Linked DNA regions of Homo sapiens. The protein of the gene in region 1 interacts with the protein of each later gene in a pairwise test. Each region holds a gene or a part of one and is shown in the gene's direction. Other genes may lie near its edges. The genes, in order: NOTO, LDLRAP1, BAG3, CEP19, APOBEC1, TTC23 and MEIS2.

Evidence for each region.
Region 2: the proteins of NOTO (region 1) and LDLRAP1 interact in binary tests that used the Homo sapiens proteins (3 or more experiments, as listed by UniProt).
Region 3: the proteins of NOTO (region 1) and BAG3 interact in binary tests that used the Homo sapiens proteins (3 or more experiments, as listed by UniProt).
Region 4: the proteins of NOTO (region 1) and CEP19 interact in binary tests that used the Homo sapiens proteins (3 or more experiments, as listed by UniProt).
Region 5: the proteins of NOTO (region 1) and APOBEC1 interact in binary tests that used the Homo sapiens proteins (3 or more experiments, as listed by UniProt).
Region 6: the proteins of NOTO (region 1) and TTC23 interact in binary tests that used the Homo sapiens proteins (3 or more experiments, as listed by UniProt).
Region 7: the proteins of NOTO (region 1) and MEIS2 interact in binary tests that used the Homo sapiens proteins (3 or more experiments, as listed by UniProt).

Annotation. Positions count from the first base shown.
Region 1 is NC_000002.12:73,205,574-73,209,073, forward strand, and holds part of NOTO (homeobox protein notochord), read left to right. Parts: intron 1-2,826; coding exon 2,827-3,041; intron 3,042-3,500. UniProt on the Homo sapiens protein: Transcription regulator acting downstream of both FOXA2 and Brachyury (T) during notochord development. Required for node morphogenesis.
Region 2 is NC_000001.11:25,550,106-25,553,605, forward strand, and holds part of LDLRAP1 (low density lipoprotein receptor adapter protein 1), read left to right. Parts: intron 1-3,500. UniProt on the Homo sapiens protein: Adapter protein (clathrin-associated sorting protein (CLASP)) required for efficient endocytosis of the LDL receptor (LDLR) in polarized cells such as hepatocytes and lymphocytes, but not in non-polarized cells (fibroblasts).
Region 3 is NC_000010.11:119,671,880-119,675,379, forward strand, and holds part of BAG3 (BAG family molecular chaperone regulator 3), read left to right. Parts: intron 1-375; coding exon 376-777; intron 778-3,500. UniProt on the Homo sapiens protein: Co-chaperone and adapter protein that connects different classes of molecular chaperones including heat shock proteins 70 (HSP70s), e.g. HSPA1A/HSP70 or HSPA8/HSC70, and small heat shock proteins (sHSPs), e.g. HSPB8.
Region 4 is NC_000003.12:196,705,777-196,709,250, reverse strand, and holds the end of CEP19 (centrosomal protein of 19 kDa), read left to right. Parts: intron 1-523; 5' UTR 524-593; coding exon 594-723; intron 724-1,338; coding exon 1,339-1,700; 3' UTR 1,701-2,974; downstream 2,975-3,474. UniProt on the Homo sapiens protein: Required for ciliation. Recruits the RABL2B GTPase to the ciliary base to initiate ciliation.
Region 5 is NC_000012.12:7,648,909-7,652,408, reverse strand, and holds the end of APOBEC1 (C->U-editing enzyme APOBEC-1), read left to right. Parts: intron 1-1,267; coding exon 1,268-1,386; intron 1,387-2,712; coding exon 2,713-2,862; 3' UTR 2,863-3,009; downstream 3,010-3,500. UniProt on the Homo sapiens protein: Cytidine deaminase catalyzing the cytidine to uridine postranscriptional editing of a variety of mRNAs. Form complexes with cofactors that confer differential editing activity and selectivity.
Region 6 is NC_000015.10:99,155,582-99,159,081, reverse strand, and holds part of TTC23 (tetratricopeptide repeat protein 23), read left to right. Parts: intron 1-2,784; coding exon 2,785-2,934; intron 2,935-3,500. UniProt on the Homo sapiens protein: Participates positively in the ciliary Hedgehog (Hh) signaling.
Region 7 is NC_000015.10:36,888,704-36,891,626, reverse strand, and holds the end of MEIS2 (homeobox protein Meis2), read left to right. Parts: 3' UTR 1-2,423; downstream 2,424-2,923. UniProt on the Homo sapiens protein: Involved in transcriptional regulation. Binds to HOX or PBX proteins to form dimers, or to a DNA-bound dimer of PBX and HOX proteins and thought to have a role in stabilization of the homeoprotein-DNA complex.

The DNA of each region.
Region 1 (3,500 bases):
GATTATGGCGGTATTCTTTTGTTACATAGAAAAAATTTTAATTTTTATGTTTGATGTGTTTTTACAAATCCTTTTTTTTTTCTTTTTTGAGACAGGTTCTCTGTCACTCATGCTGGAGTGCAGTGGTGCGATCACGGCTCACTGCAGCCTCAATGTTCCAGGCTTAAGCACTCCTCCTTAGCTTCCTGAGTAGCAGGGACCACAGGCATGCGCTACCATACTCAACTAATTTAAAACATTTTTTTTTGTAGAGATGGAATCTCACAATGCCTGTCTCAGCCTCCCGAGTAGCAGGGACCACAGGCATGCGCTACCATACTCGACTAATTTAAAACATTTATTTTGTAGAGATGGAATCTCACAATGTTACCCAGGCTGATCTTGAACTCCTGGGCTCAAGTGATCCTCCTGCCTCAGCCTCCCAAACTGCTGGGATTACAGGCATGAGCCACTGTGCCTGGCCCCACATCTTATATGATACTTGGAAAGAACTTCCTCACTGTGAAGTCATAAAATAACTTCCCCATTTTTTTCTAAATTTTTGTGGGTTTACCTTTTTACATTTAAATATTTCCTCCATTTAGATTTTTTTTAGTGCAAGGTATTGGGTATGGATCCAGCTTAATTTTTCCCAGATCTGGAAATAATCCCTCTTCCCCATTGGATTATCACTTCTGTTTTAATTTTTATAATAACCATTGACTTTCTTCTTGCTCTGTGCCTGGCACAGTGCTAAGCACCCTGTAAGCATCATATGCTTTTGTTTTTGTTGTTGTGGTAGTTGTTGTTGTTGAGACGGGGTCTTACTCTATTGGCAAGGAGTGATCTCGGCTTGGCTCACTACAACCTCTGCCTCCCGAGCTCAAGTGATCCTCCTGCTTCAGTCTCCCAAGCAGCGGGGTCTACAGTTGTGCACCACCACACCTGACTAATTTTTGTATTTTTTGTAGAGATAGGGTTTTACCATGTTGCCCAGGGTGGTCTCAAACTCCTGGGCTCAAGCGATGGGCCCATCTCAGTCTCTCAAAGTGCTGGGATTATAGGCATGAGCCACTGTGCCTAGACAGCACCATGTTAAAATCCTGACATCTCTGGAAGTAGGGATTATTATCACCATTTTACATGTGAGGAAATCAAGGCTCACAGAAGTACATTGTCTTGCCCAAGGTCCTCTGGCTGGTAATTGGTGGCAGAGCTAGGATTCCAACTAGAGCTTTTTTTTTTTTTTTTTTTTTTTTTAAGACAGAGTCTCACTCTATCACCCAGGCTGGAATACAGTGGCACAACCTTGGCTCACTGCAACTTCCGCCTTCCAGGTTCAAGCGATTCTCCTGCCTCAGCCTCCTGAGTAGCTGGGATTACAGGTGCCCACCACCACATCTGGCTAATTTTTGTATTTTTAGTAGAGACGGGGTTTCGCCAAGTTGGCCAGGCTGGTCTTGAACTCCTGACTTCAGGCTATCCGCCTGCCTCAGCCTCCCAAAGTGCTGGGATTACAGGTATAAGCCACCATGCCCGGCCTCAACTAGAGCTCTTAAGGAACACACAGTACAGCCTACTTTCTTCTCCAAAGGTCAATTTCTGATTCTGAAACAAGGCTGACTAGATACACCAGGCTGTATGTCTGATGGGCTTTTCCTGATCTTTTGGTCTACCTTGGCAGGCACAGTGTAAGCCTAGTGGGCCCAGTGGTTGGAGTCCTAAGCAGCCGGGACCCCAGATACACTCCCTTTGTTGGGGCAGTCTGTCTGCCAGCCCTGAGGACTCCCCAAGGCTAGTGGGGGCTGAGTGGCCTTAGCATTATGCTTGCCATTCTTCTGCCTAGAATACTATACCCCCAGATAGCCCAATGGCTCACTCCCTCATCCCCATCAAGATTTGACTTAGGAACTGCTCTTGGTTGATGCATCTCCACTGGCCCACAGCTTGGTCTCATTTATTCCCGTGGCTTAAAATACCATCTATATAAGCTGATGACTCCCAATTTTTTTTTTAATTGAGACAGAGTCTTGCACTGTCACCCAGGATGGAGTAGAGTGGGCTCTATCTTGGCTCACTGCAACCTCTGCTTCCCGGACTCAAGCAGTTCTCCTGCCTCAGCCTCCTGAGTAGCTGGGATTACAGGCATGTGCCACCATGCCTGGCTAATTTTTGTATTTTTAGTAGAGACGGGGTTTCACCATGTTGGCCAGGCTGGTCTTGAACTCCTGATCTCAAGCGATCCGCCCCCTTCAGCCTCCCAAAGTGCTGGAATTACAGGCATGAGCCAACGTGCTCAGTGATGACTCCCAAATTTGTATCCTCAGCTCAACCCTCTCTTCTGACTTCTATCTCTTCTGACCTCATTTCTAAGATGTAAGCTCCATAACGACAGAGATTTTCTGTTTTGTCCTGAAACCATGCATGACACACAGTAGACATTCAAAAAGTATAATATTTGTTCAGTGAATTAAAAGGGTGAACCCCTGGGGGTCTCTTCTCTGCCCATTCCATGGCGTTGCCAGAAGCAGTCAAGGAGAGGAAAGGAAGGCAAAGAGAAGGGAGGTTTGGCAACTCCTCTTAGGGGCCAGAAGTGAAGCCACTTGGCTAGAGAGTAGTGGTGGCAGACAGTCTCATTGCATTGTCCCTTCTTTCCCATTTGTTTGTTTCCTGTTATTTCTGCACAGTCTCTTTCCACTGTCTTCTTGCACTGTTACCTGGCCAAGGGGAAGGCAAGGTAGCAGAGCTGTGTGTGCCTTCTCATTTTGCCCAGATGGGAGTGCAGGGGGCTTCTGGCTAACCTCCCCTGCTGCTGGATAACCTCCCCTGCTGCTGGTTGCTCTTTAGGGTTGGAGCTGGCTCACTGCTCAGGACTCTGGGCCTTCCCAGACTGGGCCCCAACGGAGGACCTACAGGACACTGAGAGACAGCAAAAGAGAGTCCGAACTATGTTTAACTTGGAGCAGCTGGAAGAGTTGGAGAAAGTGTTTGCAAAACAGCACAATCTGGTGGGGAAGAAGAGAGCCCAGCTGGCAGCTCGGCTCAAACTTACAGAGAACCAGGTGGGAGTAGGGACTCCTATTGGGCCTGGGCTGCACCTGGGGACAAACACTACCTCAGCAAGGCCCTAAAAGGAGGGTGGGAGGAAGATATGGGCCCTCTTCCCTGTGCCAGGCTGTTGAGGGGACAGGCCCTGACTTTTTGCACACTCTATATAATGAAAAAAAAAAGTCCCATTTGAAGTCACATAATGTGAACAACTTGGAATGTTAACTTAGATTATTAGTCTAAAAATTGATAATAAAGGATTTCCATGCTAAATAAGGACCTGCCAGTAAAATTAAGTAGATGTGGCCAGGTGCGGTGGCTCACGCCTCTAATCCCAGCACTTTGGGAGGCTGAGGTGGGCAGATCACAAGGTCAGGAGTTCAAGACCAGCCCAGCCAACATAGTGAAACCCTGTCTCTACTAAAAATACAAAAAAATCAGCTGGGTGCCTATAATCCCAGCTACTTAGGAGG
Region 2 (3,500 bases), on another chromosome or scaffold:
ATTTACAGTCAAGAAAGGCACCAACAGCCCGCCCACAGGAGGGATGAGGCCCCACTGGAAGGTGTACTGAGCAACTGCGATGGGCCTGCCTCTCTGCTAAATTCTATAAACTTATCCAAGGGTCACAACAGCCCCCAGGAGTCAGAGCTGTTGTTTCCCCCATTTTAAAGATGAAAAACTGAGGTTCAGGGAGGGTAATGAGCTCACTCAAGATGACTCAGACATGAAGCATTGGAGCTGATATCTTAGGATTAAGGCCTTGCTGTTAACCACGAGGCTATATTGCCTCAAAGGAGGCTTCCTGGAAGAGGTTGGATGTGTGGGGTTTGATCAAGTGAAGAAAGGGCATTTAGGATAGAGGGAACTACTTGAGCAAAGGCAAAGAAGTTAGACAGTAAATATTACATTATTAGGAAGAAGCTCTGCATGGTTGGAGCTTCTTGGGGTAGGGGGTATGTAGGGATATTGTGGGAGAAGAGACGGGGAAACTTAAAATTCCCTCACAGTCACTGGTCATTGTGGGGATTGTCTATAGTGGACTGGGTGGGGTGAGGAGAGTCCCTCTGACTTGCCATGTTACCTTGCACAGGTCCCATCCCTGTCTGGGCTTCAGTTGTATCATCAAGTGAGGGGCTTGAGCTGAGGGCCTAAGGCTGATGAGTGGCAACCAGTCTGTAAGGACGTGGTTAGAGGAGGGGAAGGGTCAGGCCAGGGAAGGAGGAATGCAGAAAAATGCTGAACATTTCAGGGGTCAGGGAGGACTAGGGAATGTTTTGACAGCAGAGAGATCACCAGTGACCTTGGCAGGCTTTGGTTCTTTGGAATGGAGGGAGCGGAAGTGACTTTGGAAAGGGGCCAGGAAAGGGCTGAACCAGAGGAAATGGGAGAATGGGGACATGAAAATGGGGGCTGGAGAGGGAGAGTGGAGAATGTTTGCCAGGGGTAGGGATGGATAATGAGATGTTCAAACCTTGATCAATTAGTATTGCTTGCCTGGGGCCTTGTGCTGAGAAAGGATCAGAGGGAAGTAGAGCTGCAATTGATTATCAATGTCTGCCAAGGGTGCGGGTCATAGGCACAGTAGCACTTCTTTCCATTGCTGTCCTTGCTTAGATGGGTCTCAGGTTGAAATTGGTGGCCTGGGTATCCTAGCCTGCAGAGGGGAAGCCTTAGGTATTAGGAATACCTAATTCCAGGTGAGAAGAAATGCCTCCGCCTCCAAAAACCTGATCTTTTGCTAGAATTAAGGTAGTTTGCTGCATGATAAAGTAGTATGGTCTCATGGTCAGGAGCTTGGGCTTTAGAGTCAGTCCTTTGAGTCTCAGTTTCCTCTCTGTAAAATGGGAATGAGAGAATGCCTGCTTGCAAGGTGGCTGTGAGTGTTAGAGGTGATGGTAATAGCTATGGCTTTATTATTGTTGCATCTTTGTTATATGAAAGCGCTGTTTTTCCCTGATGATGGTGCTGTTATTCTGAACTTGAGAGCAGGGTCTGTGTCTGAGTTGCTCCAGGGCCCCATCACTCAACCCAGGACTGGGGACATCTCAGGGACTTTCACATTCTTTTGGAGGATCAAATGGAATAGGCTTGTGGTTGATGGGACAGAGGATAAGGTCATGTTGGGCTTTGGGGTCATCTCAGTGGAGACCTGGCCTCATGTTGGGGTGGAGGCCCAGGGATGAGATCTAGGGCTGGAGGGTCACTGGGCCTGGGGCCAGGGCTGGGGATGGGATGGGGTTGTCCTCGTCATTTCTTCCTTGAGCGAGTATTGAGCGCTACCTGCATGCCAGGTTCTAGATGACAGTCAGTAAGTCCCTGCTCACCTGATCTCAAGACATGAGGGGAACTGGGTACATCTGTAAGTTCCTGTATAACCCTCCCCAGCCCTGACACCCGCACCCTCTTTCAGATGAAGAAATGGCCTCAGAGAGGGACAGTGGCTTGCTCAAGGCAAATCCAGAGAAATGTGGGTGTACAAGGCTCCTTCTGGCTGTGGAGAGGGGGACCAGAGCCCCTGGAGGCCCAGGGCTCTAGGATAGGAGCTGAGAGGGGCAGCAGGGATCCAGACTGGGTAGGGGACCTGGTGATGCCACCTGGACCCAGACTTCTGCTCTTGACAGAGCCGGAACTCCAGAACCAAGCTGAGCCTTGTAGTAGGGGCCCACATCCCTGCCAGAGCCTCAGCTGCCCTGGAACTAGCAATACCCAAACTTTCTTCCTGTGGCTTTTCAATCAGAGCCAGTGAGGAAGGCCTCAGGAGGAGGTAGGGAGGGCCCAGGACATCTCCCAGCCCCTCCCTGGGGGATGGTCTAGGGAAGCTGGCCCTGGCTACCTCTCGTGGCCCCTGGAAGCTGATTCCTGGCTGGATCCTGCTCTGTCCTCAACAAGATTGTGTGTGAGGCTGAAGAGCAGTTTTCTTTCTCATCTGTAAAATGGTGCAGTCATAACAAACACCTCCTACAAGCACAGCATCTGTGAGGGTTTCCTCTCTGTAAAATGGGACAGAGAGGTAGGGGACAGGAAGGGGCTCTGGCAGGTGGAAGTGTGAGGTGTTCATTCATCTTTCTTCATGTCCTCCTTCCGAGGAGCCGGGGATGGTCAGAAACTGTCAGTGCAGCCTGCTTTTGCCCTCATGCCCATTTGCCTCCACGGGGCCCTCACCTACGTGGTGGGGCGCTCTTTCCACGTGTCCCTCCTGGTCCATTTGCCCACCCAGTGAGGCAGGCTCATCCCCTTATTTCCTGACATTTGTGTGGTTGGTGCTTTTAGAGAACTCTCCTTGTGGACTCTGTTCTGCACCATTGTCACAGCCCAGAGAGGGGGGAATGTTAGTCCCAAAGAGGAGAGGGGACTTCCCTAGGACCATCCAGGGGGTGGGAAGCAGAGTGGGTCTCGAACCTTCTCCGATTTGGGAAATCGCCTTCTCCTCTCCCCACCCACCCTTACCCTTCCCTGCTCTCCCTGGGCTACTGTCTCCTGCCCAGCCTCCCACATGCCCCTGTTGGTCTCTACGGATGCGCACAGGGAGGAAAGCAGTGCAGGCTGGGGCCATGGGAACCGCTCAGGGTTGAAGTCCGACTCATTGTATGTGGCCTTCATCTCATGACTTTGCCTCCCTGAGCCTCAGTCTCCTAATCTGTAGAATCATTGTCTCACAGGATTGCACTAAGGATTCAGTAAGAAATGGTATGATTTGCCCTCAGCAAGTGGTAGCATTGAAGTAAAGAGGGCTCAGGGCTTGAAAATAGGGCTCGAAACTTGGCTCTTGCACTTCCTGGCTCTCTGGACTTGGTTATGTGATTGAGCCTCCATGGCCTCCGTGTCTTTGTCTGTCAATGGGTTTGATTAAAGCGTTGACCTCATAGGTTCTTAGGAGGATTAATGAGAACATTTTATGTAAAGCTGCTTACATGGAGCCTTGGTATGTGCCGGAAAGCTTTAGCCCTTTATTAAAAGTGACAGCAGACCCAGCACGGTGGCTCATGCCTGTAATCCCAGCA
Region 3 (3,500 bases), on another chromosome or scaffold:
CTAGGTTCAAGCAATTCCCCTGCCTCAGCCTCCTGAGTAGCTGGCACTACAGGCATGCGCCGCCACACCCAGCTAATTTTTGTATTTTTGGTAGAGATGGGGTTTCACCATGTTGGCCAGGCTGCTCTTGAACTCCTGACCTCAGGTGGTCCACTCACCTAGGCCTCCCAAAGTGCTGGGATTACAGGTGTGAGCCACCGCGCCCAGCCCCAGAGCTCTCAGTCTTAACCGCACATTTTGAAAATTGAAAATTACAGATAGGAGGTCTTACAATATGGATTGCCCTGAGGAGGTGCACAGCAGAAGGCGTGGTCAGGATGCCAAGCCAGGGGAGTCATTTGTGGGGTCATGCCCTCTACCCTGTGTCTCTTGCAGCGGTCCCAGTCTCCAGCTGCCTCTGACTGCTCATCCTCATCCTCCTCGGCCAGCCTGCCTTCCTCCGGCAGGAGCAGCCTGGGCAGTCACCAGCTCCCGCGGGGGTACATCTCCATTCCGGTGATACACGAGCAGAACGTTACCCGGCCAGCAGCCCAGCCCTCCTTCCACCAAGCCCAGAAGACGCACTACCCAGCGCAGCAGGGGGAGTACCAGACCCACCAGCCTGTGTACCACAAGATCCAGGGGGATGACTGGGAGCCCCGGCCCCTGCGGGCGGCATCCCCGTTCAGGTCATCTGTCCAGGGTGCATCGAGCCGGGAGGGCTCACCAGCCAGGAGCAGCACGCCACTCCACTCCCCCTCGCCCATCCGTGTGCACACCGTGGTCGACAGGCCTCAGGTACGGGAAGTTAGTCGTCAGCAGACTGGTTATGGTGGTATGTCTCCAGGGGTGCAGGAGCTCTGTGGGTGCCCTGGGTTCCCCCTTCATCCCTGCCTATTTAACATGCGTGTACCTACAGGCAAGTGAGATTCGAGAAATTGCTAGGTATTAACAGAAATGCAGGACAGTTGCTCAGGCTGTGAACCCTCCGCACTCTGCAGCTTTTGCTGGGCTGATCATTGTGCATTGCGGCTGACTTAGAGCAGACGAAACAGCTTGGCAGAACTTACATACCTGGGACCAGCTTCCTTAGTGTCCACCACACCCTTTCAGGGCTCTTCACACCCCCATCCACACCGCAGCCACAGCCTCACCTTGGGTGTAGGCAGTGTGTCACCTTCCACTCAGTTACCCACTCCACTCTGCAGGCCCATTCTGCTCATTCCCACCCCTGTGCCTTTGCCCATGCTGAACCCGCTCCCTGAAATGCCCGCACAGTATAGGTTCTCCCTGTCCTCTGAGGGACGAGCCAGTCTTGTCTCCTCCATGAAGCCTACTCATCCTTCTCATCTCATGATGCCTCATATGAGTCCCTTAATGAGAACTCCCAACTTGTATGAGTTCAACATGTCATTATTCGGGGCATTTCAGAAGTGTTCATTTTATCTCTTCAGCTTAGGGCTGAGCCTGACCACAGGGCCCATGTCTTAACCCCCCTCCTCCCTTTGTAATCAGGTACCATGTGGTCTGGCTGAGGCATCAGCCAGCTATGGCGGATTGGAAGCCGTGCTGGCCTGGGGAAGGTTGTAGGCAGGGGTCTGGTTATCTTCCAGTGGAGACACAAGGTGCAGGTTCCTGGAAGAGGATGTCATTTAGTTTAAGCAGCTCACAGCTTAGCAGCAGGACAGTCAGCAGCCCTGGGCCCCCTGTGGCTGCAACTTGAGCAGCTGAATGCTACAGTTTTTAAAAAGGAAAGCCCCCCGTGAACAAATGTGGGATATTCTTTCATTACAAATGGTCACACTGGCCAGGGCCCTGGAATAGAGCACCCTCATCTTAAAATGTTGTTTTATTTGGAAATAATTTCAATCTCATAGAAGAGTTGTGTGAATCATACAGAGCCCCACATATACTTCATCCAGTTCACTGTTTGTCAATATGTCTGCATTCGCCTTGTCATTTCTTCTCTCGTATATTATTGATGTGTTTTAACTGTTTGAAAATTAATTGCAGACATCATGTCCCTTTTCCCCTGAATAGCAAATATTTTCCTAAGAGGAAGACATTCTCGTTCATAACCATGGTAGACTTACCAGATTCAGGAAATTTCACATTCTTACAACATTATTATCCAGTACATTTTTGAATCTTTTTTATAGCAGTTTGCCCCCACTTCCAGGATGTCTTCCAGGACTGAAACAAGGATCATGAGCACCGCATTTAGATGCAACTTCTCTTCAGTCTTCCCTCAGCCTTTCTTTGCTTTCACGGCCTTGACGGTTTTGAAGAACACAGGCTGTGGAACACCCTCTCTAAAGTGTTTCTAAAGTCACTTCTTACACAGCCATTGCTGTTAGAACCTAGGAGGGGTGCGTGGTTGGGTTGTGAGTGGTAAGGGCCAAAGTTGCGAATGTCTGCATTGGCGAAAGAGATTTGATGGAAAAGGAGGTTGCTGGAGTGTAGACAGCTACATCGATCCATACTTGGGTTCAGCAATCCTAGGAGGGTCCCATTTGTAGAGAGAGGGATATTTTCTCCACATCATTCCCATGTGTTTCTCATCATCAGTGAAATGATATTTCATCCTGTTCTTACCATTAACCGTGTTTGTGGTGACCTCCCTTTTAGAGCTGATTCAAAGTTCCCTTTTGGGAGGCTTTCCAGGATTTCACCAAACTGAACGTTATAGTGGAATTGAGTGTTTTAAGCTGGGAATAGTTTAGAAATAATATAGTCCAGTTATTTCCCAGTTGATGAAATTAGGGTGAGATTTTAAAAGAAGTGTTAGATATTCACTTACATGAATAAGAGCCAAGATAAGGCCAAGCGCAGTGGCTCACGCCTGTAATCCTGTAATCCTAGCACTTTGGGAGGCCGAGGCGGGGGTATCACTTAAGGTCAGGAGTTCAAGACTAGCCTGGCCAACATGGTGAAACCCCATCTCTACTAAAAATACAAAAAAAAAAGTTAACCAGGCATGTTGGTGGGCGCCTGTAATCCCAGCTACTCGGGAGGCTGGGGTGGGAGGATTGCTTGAACTTGGGAGGCAGAGGTTGCAGTGAACTGAGATCACACCACTGCACACTCCAGCCTGGGTGACAGAGCGAGGCTCCGTCTCAAAAACAAAAACAAAAACAAAAAGCGTCAAGATATTTTTGCTTTGAGCATAGCTCATTAAAAAATATATGGCTTACTAGGCGTGGTGGCTCACACCTATAATCCTAGCACTTTGGGAGGCCGAGGTGGGCAGATTGCTTGAGCTTAGAAATTCAAGACCAGCCTGGGCAGCATGGTGAAACCCTGTCTCTACAAAAAAATAGAAAAATTAGCCAGGCATGATGGTATGTGCCTGTAGTTGCAACTAATCATGAAGCTAAGGTGAGAGGATCACTTGAGGCCAGAAGGTTGAGGCTGCATTGAGCTGTGATAGCCCCGCTGCACTCCAGCCTGGGCAACAGAGTGAGACCCTGTCCCCCACAAAAATCTATATATCTATATGGCTGTAGTTTATAGTCACAGGA
Region 4 (3,474 bases), on another chromosome or scaffold:
CTTACCTTATCATAGTACCTTGATACCGAGGATGCTCGATATGCCCTTTCTTAATTGATAAATAGTAAAGACCCTATAGGTCAGCTATTGGGCTGACTTAGGGGTTCATATTCGATCTTCAGTAAGAGTGCAGTACACTAAGAGGTTCAAACTGGATTGCATCCCCAGATTCACATATGAACAAGTCTATATCCTTGAAAAAACCAGATCTTAGGGATCCAACAGGTTGAAACTAACCCAGGGCCAAGCTGAACTTTCAGGGCAGTTCTCAAAATAACTGAGCTTTGTGGTCGTTCCCGCGCACATACCCCACAATTGGAATGATACAGAGAGGATCAGCATGGCCCCTGCGCAAGGATGACACACAAATTCATGAAGCAGTCCGTATTTTAATTTTAAAAAAAATGAGTTTCACAGGCTGAGCGTGTGTGGCCAGAGCCGGACTAGAACCAGATCTTCTGGGGCAAAGGGGCGAGGGGAATGAATGACATTTATCCAACACCTAGTTGTTTTTTCCCTTTAGCAGGAAGTCATTATGCAACTTACACATATTCATCAGATTTCCTCTGACTTACCCGGACATGTACATGGGAATGATGTGCACTGCCAAGAAATGTGGGATTAGGTTTCAGCCTCCAGCTATTATCTTAATCTATGAGAGTGAAATCAAGGGGAAAATTCGCCAGCGCATTATGCCAGTTCGAAACTTTTCAAAGTTTTCAGGTACCTCATGTCTTATCTTGCCTCCTGTCTTAAATATTCTCTAAATACAGGTTCACATCATGACTCTGTCAGGGACTGGATGTGTGACACTGGATGAATTACTTACTCTCAGTGAGCTTCAGTTTCCTAATCTATAAAAGGGAATTGTAGTGTTTTTTTCCAATCTGATAATTAATAATCCTTTTGGGATTGCTGCCTAGGTTAAATGATATAGCATTATTCAATAATATTAATTCCCTTCTCTCATTCCAAATGTTTTTTATTTGTAGTCTTAATATTTTATTAATACCACTACTGCTATCTAAAAGCTATAATATCACTTTTCTTCTCAGACATATTCTCCAGTTGAAAGTGTTTAATATCTCTACAAAGTGATTTTTAAGTTAAAGAAGTCAAAACTGTATCTGTCCTTCTCCCACCACACTGAAAGCTCAATATAAAGGAATGGTTCTACAAAGTAATTCATTCCAATCAAGCCATTTAGCTACTTGACTATAATGGAGATAATATTTTCAGGGTTCAGAGTTTTTGTTCTGTTTTGGCTGTTGCAGTAGTTTATGGCGTATATGATGTACGTGGTACGTATGTGGTATATAGTTTTCTTCTCTCTCCCAGATTGCACCAGAGCTGCTGAACAATTAAAGAATAATCCGCGACACAAGAGTTACCTAGAACAAGTATCCCTGAGGCAGCTAGAGAAGCTATTCAGTTTTTTACGAGGTTACTTGTCGGGGCAGAGTCTGGCAGAAACAATGGAACAAATTCAACGGGAAACAACCATTGATCCTGAGGAAGACCTGAACAAACTAGATGACAAGGAGCTTGCCAAAAGAAAGAGCATCATGGATGAACTTTTTGAGAAAAATCAGAAGAAGAAGGATGATCCAAATTTTGTTTATGACATTGAGGTTGAATTTCCACAGGACGATCAACTGCAGTCCTGTGGCTGGGACACAGAGTCAGCTGATGAGTTCTGATACCAAACACTCAAAACATGCATTGGGCTAGCAGAATATCCATGTTTATTACCAGACTGGTTCTGGAAGAAGCTGTAAAGAATACTAAATATGTTGGGTTATAGGGGATTGACCATGTTACTTTTCAAAACCAGGACATTTAAAGCATCTACTATGTAGGTGCATGAGGAGTATGGGAAAAACAGAATAAAGGAATCTGCCTTTAAGGAGCTTACAATCATGCCGGGTGCGGTGGCTCACGCCTGTAATCCCAGCACTTTGGGAGGCTGAGGCGGGTGGATCACCTAAGGTCAGGAGTTCGAGACCAGCCTAGCCAACATGGTGAAACCTCGCCTCTACTAAAAATACAAAAATTAGCCAGGCGTGGTGGCGGGTGCCTGTAATCCCGGCTACTCAGGAGGCTGAGGCAGGAGATTCGCTTGAACCTGGGAGGCTGAGGTTGCAGTGAGCCGAGATCGCGCCATTGTACTCCAGCCTGGGCGATGAGCAAAACTCCATCTCAAAAAAAAAAAAAAAAAAAAGCTTACAATCTGACTGGAAGATGTCAAAACCTGTGAAAAGCTAATTAGCAGTATTAAGCAACACAAACATTAGTGCCAAATGCATGATAAAGGCTAAAGAAGGCCAGAGCATATATTACTGTAGAGTAGAATAGTAAGGGAAGACTTTGTCCTTTAGTAAAGAGATAGGAGGTGGCCTGGCCCTTGAAATAGTAGTGTTTAGGTAGATGCTTGTGTAGGATTCCTGATAAGAGCAACTGAAAAGAAGGAGAGGGGAAGTAGTAAAGGGACAAGAAACAATTTTTTTTTTGAGGAACCATAAGCAAATTATAGTTTGACAAGACAAGATTGGGGGACATATATGGTTACCAGGGAATTACCTCTTATGTGTTATATCTTTATATTATTTATCTCTGGAAAAGAGTACCCTGCAAAATTCCCTACAGCTGCAAGCAGATGTCACTTGATGGACAGAGGGGGAATTCTGCCCCTCCGGTATCGGGAAATACATACTAAAGACATTGCGAAACGCTGAACCTCTTCCCATAAATAAAAGGTTTGTTTGTAAAATGGGAAATCCACCCATAATAAATGAACAATAGGCACTGCCAGTTTAGGCCTGTTCATGAATGGATCTGCAAGACAGCATCTTCGTTTAACAACATTATCTGTGATTTGATACATTTATCCTTATTACAATATTGTTTAGTTGGTAGAAATTCTATGTTTTCTACAAGGAAATTGATGTTTATTAAATAAAACTGAAAATAATTACTCAGTGTTTCTACCTGTTCACTTCCACTCTCCTTACCATTAAGCACTTCATTAAAAGGGAGCTCATTCTTGTAGTGATATCACCAGAGTTTTGAAATAGTCAGATCTCATACATACAGTAGCCAAAGGGAGCCAAATAATTTTCTGAATTAGAGATCTTTCCATATCTACATAGTATTCCTTTATTCTTTATTGTATAGATATAGGTAGTTTATTTTTTATTTGAGACAGGGTCTCACTCTGTCACCCAGGCTGGAGTGCAGTGGCATGATCACAGCTCACCAAAGCCTCAACCTCCTGGGCTCAAGTGAGCCTCCCCTCTCAGCCTCCCAAGTAGCTGTGAGTACAGGTGCCCACCACCACACCTGGCTAATTTTTGTATTTTTTGTAGAGACAGGGTTTCACCATGTTGCCTAGGCTTGTCTGGAACTCCTGGGCTCAAGTGATCCACCCACCTCAGCCTACCAAAGTGCTAGGATTACAGATGTGAGCCACTGTGC
Region 5 (3,500 bases), on another chromosome or scaffold:
GTTTACAACAGACTGTGGTGATAGTAGCTGTTTTTAGGCCAGAAGATTGGTTAGCCCAGGCTGGAAGTCTCAGAAGTAAAAGTCCAAAATAATGTCATAAAGGACTAGGTCTGAAATTCATGACAAGGAAAGTTACAAAAATACAACTCCTGGCTACGCATGGTGGCTCATGCCTATAATCCCAGAACTTTGGGAGGCCAAGGCAGGAGGATCACTTGAAGCCAGGGGTTCAAGATCAGCCTGGGCAACATAGTGAGACCCCATCTCTAAAAAAAATTTAAAAATCCGGCCAGGTGCGGTGGCTCACGCCTGTAATCCCAGCACTTTGGGAGGCCGAGGTGGGCGGATCATGAGATCAGGAGATGGAGACCATCCTGGCTAACACGGTGAAACCCCGTCTCTACTAAAAAATACAAAAAAATTAGCCAGGCGTGGTGGCGGGCGCCTGTAGTCCCAGCTACTCGGGAGGCTGAGGCAGGAGAATGGCGTGAACCCGGGAGGCGGAGCTTGCAGTGAGCCGAGATCGCGCCACTGCACTCCAGCCTGGGCGACAGAGCGAGACTCCGTCTCAAGATAAAATAAAATAAAATAAAATAAAAAATAAAATAAAAAAATCAGACAGGCATGGCAGCATACACCTTTAAAGGCTGAGGTAGGAAGATCTCCTGAGCCCAGAAGTTCAAGGCTGCAGTGAGCTATGATTGGACCACTGCACACTGGCCTAGGTGACAGAGCGAAACCCTGTATCAAAAAACAAAAACAAAAACAAACAACAACTCTTTTTTTTTTTTTTTTTTGAGACGGAGTCTTGCTCTTTCGCCCAGGCTGGAGTGCAGTGGTGCAATCTCGACTCACTGCAAGCTCCACCTGGGGTTCACGCCATTCTCCTGCCTCAGCCTCCCCAGTAGCTGGGACTACAGGCGCCCACCACCACGCCCGGCTAATTTTTTGTATTTTTAGTAGAGACGGGGTTTCACTGTGTTAGGCAGGATGGTCTCGATCTCCTGACCTGTGATCCACCCCCCTCGGCCTCCCAAAGTGCTGGGATTACAGGCGTGAGCCACCGCACCCAGCCAACAACTCTTTTCTCTAGTCTTGCCTCTCAGCCATCTTTAAATGAACTGCTTTATTCTTTTTAGGGGGTCTAATGTCCAGCAGCAACTAGACTAGAGACTACAGGCTTTCTATACGGGAAGCTAGGTTGGGGATCTTCTTAAGTAATTTACCATTGTGCTTGTTGAATGAGCCAAGATTTGTGTTTCCTTAGAGTATTATCACTGCTGGAGGAATTTTGTCAACTACCCACCTGGGGATGAAGCTCACTGGCCACAATACCCACCTCTGTGGATGATGTTGTACGCACTGGAGCTGCACTGCATAATTCTAGTAAGTCACTTTAGGGACACAAATGTTGATGCAAAAAGAAGCATCCTTCTTCAAAGGTCTTTCCTGAGAAAATTTGACTCATATCTTCTTTTTGACATTTATATTGAGATTTAGTTATTTAACTAGCTAGCTCCTCTTAAGAAAATCTCAGAGCCAGGTATGGTGGTGCACACTTGTAGTCCCAGCTACGCAGGAAGCTTGAGTCTAGGCGTTGCAAGCTGCAGTGAGCTATGATCACGCCAATATGCTCCAGCCTGCGTGGTATAACAAGATCCTGTTTCTAAAACACAGCTGGGTACAGTGGCTCATGCCTGTAATCCAAGCACTTTGGAAGGCCAAGATGGGAGGATTGCTTGAGACCAGGAGTCTGAGACCAGCCTGGCCAACATAATGAGACCCCCTCTCTATAAAAAAGAAAATTATGTATCAAACAAAGTAAACAAACAAGCAAACAAACAACATCTAAGCCTAAGAACAAGAAGTGTGTTTGTGGGAGGTAAGTGGAGAAGGGAATTTGGGTAAACCGATCTAAGATATGGGTGGTCCCCATATTAATTACATTTTATCATTTTTATTCTTATTTTATTATCATTATCTTTTAAGCCACAGGGTCTCGCTGTGTTGCCTAGGCTGGGGTGTAGCGGCTATTCACAGGCACCATCACAGCAACCCACAGCCTCAAACTCCGAATTCCTAGCCTCAAGCAATCCTCTGACCTCAGCCTTCTGGGTAGCTAGAACTACAGGCGTGTGTCATCATGTCTGGCTTTATCATTATTATTGTTCTTGTTACTACAACACATATTGGCTCTACTGTATTTCAGATATTCTCCTTTCTCTTATTAGTGTGTGTAATCTTATTGAAGAGAATGTACGTGTTCCATTGGATTCTCTTGAAAGTGGTTCAGGCTGGGTGCAGTGGCTCATGCTTGTAATCCTAGCACTTTGGGAGGCAGAGGGGAGTGGATGGCTTGAGCCCAGAAGTTGGAGACCAGCCTGGGCAACATGGCGAAACCACATCTCAACAAAAACACAAAAAAATTAGCTGGGTGTGGTGGTGCGTGCCTGTAGTCCCAGCTACTTGGGAGGCTGAGGTGGGAGAATTGTTTGAGCCTAGGAGGTTGAGGCTGCAGTGAGCTGTGATTGCACCACTGCGCTCCAGCCTGGGTGAATGCAGTGAGTCCAGAACCAGACCCTGTCTGGGAAAAAAAAAAAAGAAGAAATAGTTAAATCGTCTTCCAACTGACATTTTTAAATGTTTGTGGTGATAATATTATTAATTAAAATATTCATCCTAAGGATTAAATATAATCCTTTTTTATTCCAGAGTCTTCCACCCTGTTTAAAGATTTCAAGAAGATGGCAAAATCATCTTACATTTTTCAGACTTCATCTTCAAAACTGCCATTACCAAACGATTCCGCCACACATCCTTTTAGCTACAGGGCTGATACATCCTTCTGTGGCTTGGAGATGAATAGGATGATTCCGTGTGTGTACTGATTCAAGAACAAGCAATGATGACCCACTAAAGAGTGAATGCCATTTAGAATCTAGAAATGTTCACAAGGTACCCCAAAACTCTGTAGCTTAAACCAACAATAAATATGTATTACCTCTGGCAGTTTCTGTGGGTAAGGAATTTAGAAGCAGCTTATCTGTGTGTTCCTGTCTCAGGTCCCCCACGAGGTTGTAGTCAAGATGGCAGCCAGCGCTGCAATCATTTGAGGGCTTGACTGAGGCTGGAGAATGTGCTTCCCAGGTGGCAGGCTCAGATGGCTGGCAAGTTTGTGCTAGTGGCTGGTAGAAGGTTTCAGTTTCTTGCCACACAGGCCTCTCCACAGGGTTGCTTAAATAACCTCAGGACATGGCAGTTGGCTTCCTACAGATTAATTTACCTTTTGAAAAATTTCCTGTAGAGATGGAGTTTTGCTGTGTTGCCCAGGCTGGTCTCAAAGTCCTGGACTCAAGTGATCCACCAGCCTCGGCCTACCAAAGTGCTGGGATTACCGGTGTGAGCCACCATACCTGGCCCAGAGCGAGTGATCGAAGAGAGACCAAGGTGGAAATTTCCACGACTTTGATGACTTCATCTTGGAATCACACCCTATTTCT
Region 6 (3,500 bases), on another chromosome or scaffold:
CTGGCTCTTTTCATTCTAGGGCCACTGCCAGCCCATCCAATGCCCTTATCATAATAGAAAAAGCTGCCCCTTCCTCAGGTAGATACCGCCCATGTTGGAGAGGACCATAGGCTGGATTTCAGCCCTCCCCATGCTCCTGCCAGGCACCCTTGTGTGTGGCACCACCTGCCCAGCCAAACATGGCAGTCTCATGCTGTTCTCACCATTTGGTTGCAAACCTCTCACTGTGGGTTCTAGCAGGTGTTGGCCAACAAGGGCCGGGCCCAGGGACAGTCCCGGAGCCAAGAATGGGGCTGTGCTCAGGCCATCCCAGGTGTTCCCACAGCACATGGCCATGGGCACTGTGGAACATGATATTTGAGGGATGAAATGCCTTTTAAGGTAAAATGTAAGTGAAGGTCACTCTGCCACAGGTTAAGCTACTCCGTGAGGGTTTGTCTTCTAGTTGTGCCACTCTTTTGCTCAAGAATCTTCTGTGACTTCCTCAGCCTGGCCACTCACTGGCCCTCAACAGGCCATGTGTTCCTCCTGTGCTCCCAGTGGCCCATACCCTCTTCTCATCCCACCTAAGTCCTCTTTACTCTTCACTCCTCTCTCTTAAGCTTTTCCTAGCAGAGGTTGATACTATCTCAGTTTCCTAGAAACCCGTGCCATTTAACTTCCTTCACATCTCCCCGTTTCCGCAGTCAGGCTGTAGGCGGCATCCAAAGCTTTATCTGGGAAAGGGAGTCTCCCCGGGTCTTCTCCCCATCACTGGCTCCTCTAAGTCTGACAGTGATATTTTCCCACAGAAATATCACCAAACCCAGCACTCTCAGCAGTCCAAGTCCTTGCTCTCAGAACTTGGGAGATGTGATGGGCTTTACCCTCAGGCAAGTCTAGATTTAAATTCTAGTCCCTCATGTACCTCAGTGGGGCCTCACTGCTGAGTTACACAATCACTCTGCCTCTACAGAGATTCCTCTTTCACCTGAGAAATTTATTTCTGCCTCATCAGCACCTGTAATGTGGTTCCCCTACCCCGGCCCTATCCCCTAACTTGTATTATTGCCAACAAAAGGATTAAACGCCCTCCTTGTCCTTCTGTTTGTGGAGCACTTTTGGGACCCCTTTGGGGCTGTGTCATGAGGAAGCTCCCATGGTCCCTGCTGTATTTGCCAGTTAAATTCAGCATCCATGCTCTGCAGCTGATGTCGTGCCTTCATGTGGAAGATCGTGGAAGAATTTCTGGAGAAAGTATGGAGGATTGACATACTTTAACAGGGTTTCCCCCTGCATATTTTGGTGTCTGAAGAAGCTAATATCAGGAAATACTATGTCCTGACCAATTCATAATTTTTATTCCATGTTAGTATAAATAAATTGGATAAACCAAACAAAATGTCATGTCATGTTGGAATGTTTACTTTCAGTTTCCTAAACGATTTCCTATGAGAATAGCCAAGCCTGGAGTGTGTTCAGGATGTTCTATACATAGATAATTTGCCCAGGAATGCTATATTTTCACTTCTGTAAGAATAGCATTGTGGACAGAGGGAGAAAAGCATGGGACTAAAATGTATGAAAATTAGACTGGGCATTGTGGCTCGCGCCTGTAATCCCAGCACTTTGGGATGCCAAGGTGGGTGGATCACTTGAGGTCAGGAGTTCAAGACCAGTCTGGCCAACATGGTGAAACCCTGTCTCTACTAAAAATACAAAAATTAGCTGGGTATGGTGGTGGGCGCCTGCAATCCCAGCTACTTGGGAGGATGAGGCAGGAGAATCGCTTGAACCTGGGAGGCAGAGGTTGCAGAGAGCTGAGATCATGCCACTGCACTCCAGGCTGGTAGACAAAGAGAGACTCTGTCTAAAAAAAAAAAAAAAAAAACCTCCAGATTTCCACCTGCTGTTGTAAAATGGAAGATCTGCTGAGACGGTGAGACGGATTTAAAAAAAAAAAAAAAAAAAGGTATGAAGATCACTGGCTGGATTCAGATCCTAGCACCACCACAGCTGAGCCCTCTGACTCTGAGCAAGTTTCTTAACTGCCGTGCCTGTTTCCTCCTCTGCCTAATGAGGATTAAAATTTTACCCATCTAAAGAAGACAGCAAAAATTAAATGAGACCCACACAATTGTGTGTGTTCAGCACAATTAGTGACATGTGAGGACTGATCCATGTCAGCTTTTGTTCTTACTACTCAACTGAAATGGATTCCTGTAATGGCTGAGTGGGTTTATTTTGCCAGGTGTCCTCTCTCTTCATAGTTTACACCTTTCCTCACATTCGTGTTGTTTCCTGACTCTTGTTCAACCAGAGGTGATATGATTTGGCTGTGTCCCCACCCAAATCTCGTCTTGAATTATAGTTCCTATAATACCCATGTGTCATGGTAGGGACCCTGTGGGAGGTGATTGAACCATGGGTGCGGTTACCCCCATGCCGTTCTTGCGATAGTGACTGAATTCTCACAAGATCTGATGGTTTTATAAGGGGCTTTGCCCCCTTTGCTCAGCACTTATCTCTCCTGCTGCCCTATGAAAGAGGTGCCCTCTGCCATGATTGTAAGTTTTCTGAGGCCTCCCCACCCATGTGGAACTGTGAGTCAATTAAACTTCTTGGCTTTATAAATTACCCAGTCTCAGGTATCTCTTCATAGCAGCATGAGAATGGACTAATACAAGAGGAGAACAGGCTCAGCTCGTGAGACTACCACACCCATGTGAAAATGTTACAAGTTGCGTAATGATCCTAATCAGCCTTTGAGCTTGTTAACCAGATAGCTTTTTGTTCCTTTCACAGAGAGCAACCTCGATCCTGAGAGAGTCCCTGGAAGCCAAAGTGGAAGCATTTGGCGATTTCAGTCCCGAGGTGGCAGAGACATACCGGCTCCTGGGAGGAGCAGACCTGGCGCAGGGGAACCACAGTGGGGCCCGCAAGAAACTGAAGAAGGTAAAGCTGGAACCAGTACTAACACGAGACTAGGCTCTCCCTCCCCTCTCCAAGGTCAATTTCTCTCCCTTGTGGTGGTTCTTTTAAATGAAACTTTAGAAGTGGCTTGTTTAGATAGGATGACATCACTTTTGTGGTAGATCTAACCTGATACTTTTTGGGTAAAAGACATAGTAAGCCTCTTAGACATACATATTTTTTAAATGAATTATCAGTTTTTACTATGCAAATATTTTTAATTTTTTACGTAGTACAATTGATCAGTCCTTTATGTTTGCGGTGCTCTCTCTATACTGAGTTTATAGAGGAATTCTCTTACACTTTCTTCAATTGTCATTCTTCTTTAAATTTGGAGTTTATTTGTGTGGATGGCATGAGGAATGGATCTAATCTTACCTTTTTTCCAAATGGCCACCCAGTTGTCCAGCACCATTTAATTAGAGAGCCCATCTATGCTCCAGTGACTTCAGATAACACCTTCATCATATACTGATTTTCCTTATGGACTTAAGTCTATTTCTAGATTTCTCTTCTCTTCCACTAGTCTTTCTGTTTATTCATGTGTC
Region 7 (2,923 bases), on another chromosome or scaffold:
GCCTTTGTTCCTCCATAAATGTGTCCTTTAGTTTCAAACAGATCTTTATAGTTCGTGCTTCATAAGCCAATTCTTATTATTATTTTTGGGGGACTCTTCTTCAAAGAGCTTGCCAATGAAGATTTAAAGACAGAGCAGGAGCTTCTTCCAGGAGTTCTGAGCCTTGGTTGTGGACAAAACAATCTTAAGTTGGGCAGCTTTCCTCAACACAAAAAAAAGTTATTAATGGTCATTGAACCATAACTAGGACTTTATCAGAAACTCAAAGCTTGGGGGATAAAAAGGAGCAAGAGAATACTGTAACAAACTTCGTACAGAGTTCGGTCTATTAATTGTTTCATGTTAGATATTCTATGTGTTTACCTCAATTGAAAAAAAAAAGAATGTTTTTGCTAGTATCAGATCTGCTGTGGAATTGGTATTGTATGTCCATGAATTCTTCTTTTCTCAGCACGTGTTCCTCACTAGAAGAAAATGCTGTTACCTTTAAGCTTTGTCAAATTTACATTAAAATACTTGTATGAGGACTGTGACGTTATGTTAAAAAAAAAAAGGTGTTAAGTCACAAAAAGCGGTAATAAATATTTCATTTTTGATTTTTTGTTAGGCTTTTGCGTTTTTAATGGTTTTAGGACAAGACTGCACAATGCCAACTCTATACAGTGTTAAAAGTAGGTTTTTCCCCCCAGCAGTTGAGTATATTTTAAACTCATCAATAATTTTTAAGGTAATCATCTATAGCCTTTCAATGTCTATTTGACCTATAAGTTCCACCAGCAGAAAACTTCTAAAGGTACGAAACTATGTGTACATGATGAGCCAGGTTGAAAGATCCCCTTGAACATGCTCAACCTCCTTTTTAGATGCATGACGTTAAAAAATATATACTTTCAGATAAAGCTTTTCATGGGCATCCTCTGCCAGAATAAAGGACTTTTCAGGGTTAATTTTACAACATAAGAAATAATGTCTGTGCTCAAAGGTAATTTATCTGCCTGTGTTTTTCCTCTGCCTGTCTTACTACAATATTGTTGGATATGTAAATGAAAATTTACATATGGGTGTTCATAGATAAGTAAACAACTTCTATGGAGTTTGAAATTCTGACTTTAAAAGATTACTTAATCATTAATATTTTATAAATTATATTGTGGTATATTTTTATTTCAGACACATCCATGTGCAGGGATGCTAGTGTGATGATTTGATAACTAAACTTAAACTTTTTTCTGAAAACAAAACAAAACAAAATGGACGGTATAATGCCATTTTCAAAATTTTATGCAACATTCCTGGAAATCTATACCATTAGCTTATTGATACTGCACAAACAATGTCTGCTAAAGTGTGCAAAAAGGGTGAGGCATGTCCCCTCAATTTTCAAATAAATATACTATCCTGGAATTTTTTAACTCTTAAATTTTGAATCTTTGTTTAGAAAGAATAATGTCATATACTTTGGCTAGATATGTGATGTCAACCGGCTAAGGAAATTATTCATCATCTCTGCAAACTTAAACTTGGAAGAAATCCATAGTTATTATTTGGGGCTCTTCCATCTTTCCATTTCAGACAGCATTTATGGAGGTTCTATATAAATGAACGAGGAAATACACTTCTATTGTTTTGTGTTATATTTAGTCAGGTAGAATTTTTACAAATACATTTCAGTTTAAGTGTTGTGTTGCTGTTTAAACATAGAAATAATGCTTCTGACACAAACTAACTTAATAGAGAAATTCAGTGCCACTTGGGAAAGAGAGATAGCTTCCCTCTCATTTTTGCTATTCTATTTTACATGAAGTCTTTTTGTAAATTTTAAATATTTGCCTATTTTTACTTTAAATACTTTTATGTAAACTATGAAAATTCCCCATTATAAATCAACTCTCACATCAGGTGGGAAAAAGAACCTTTTTTTCTTTCCACTCAGTAAATTCTGAAGGGTTTCCTTGGCAATTGGCTCGTGTTTAGGATGTGTTTTATGCAATTATCAAGTTATCTCATTGAAGTTTAGAGACCAGAGCTCTCAACTCTTGGTTTTAATGAATAAAGTCATCTCATGCTTAGTTTATTCGTCAAACCCACGTCCTATCATGTTAACTTTAACCTTCTTAAATATTTGGAGATGAATGATAATTGTAATATTTGTTTGCATTACCTTGCTCTCCCCCACCCCCAACCCCATGATAACACAGAGAAGTGATAGATTTGTCCAATTTTTATAATGCTTTTTTTACACCACCCCGGAAGGCACTTGCTCCTATCTCGGGTTTACTATTTAGTGTAAAGAGTTCCGATTTGGGTATATTTAAGAAAGACTCAGCTGTCAAAAGCAAAGAAACTGGGAATGGTGTTTTGACAACCATATAGTGTTAAAGGAAATACTGTAGTCTGAATAAAATTGCTTATGTTCTCCAAAACAAGAGTAATATAAAAACACTTTTTTATTTATATGAAAAAGCAAAAGCAGAAATAAATTCCAAAGGTTTCCCTTTCTTTAAGAAATTCTGAGAGAACTGCAGTCGCCATCTGTTAAGGGTTGGGAATTGAGCAAGAAGCCACATTTTAAACGAAAAAGAGAGAAAAGACCAGGAAAGTCTGTGTCTTCCGTCCACCCCTCCTCTCTTCCACCCCCTAGGTCAGCACCCCTCACGCCCCTCAGCTCTCACCCTCGTTAGAGTCCACCAGGATCCTCCTGCCTCCTCACCCCCTCCCGCCCCCGCGGGCCTGTTAACCCGGAGCAGATTTGGGAAGGGAAATGTGGCTAATATCTCTAGCAGCTGTCAAAGGAGGGACCTTCCTTCAAAGGGACTGGACAGGGATCCTCCACAAGTTCTCCATTAGCTAGCAGGCCAGCAATTTGATAAGGAGCCTGGACCTCCGCTACAAGTTGCCACTCAGTTAGAAAGTCCGGTGTCCG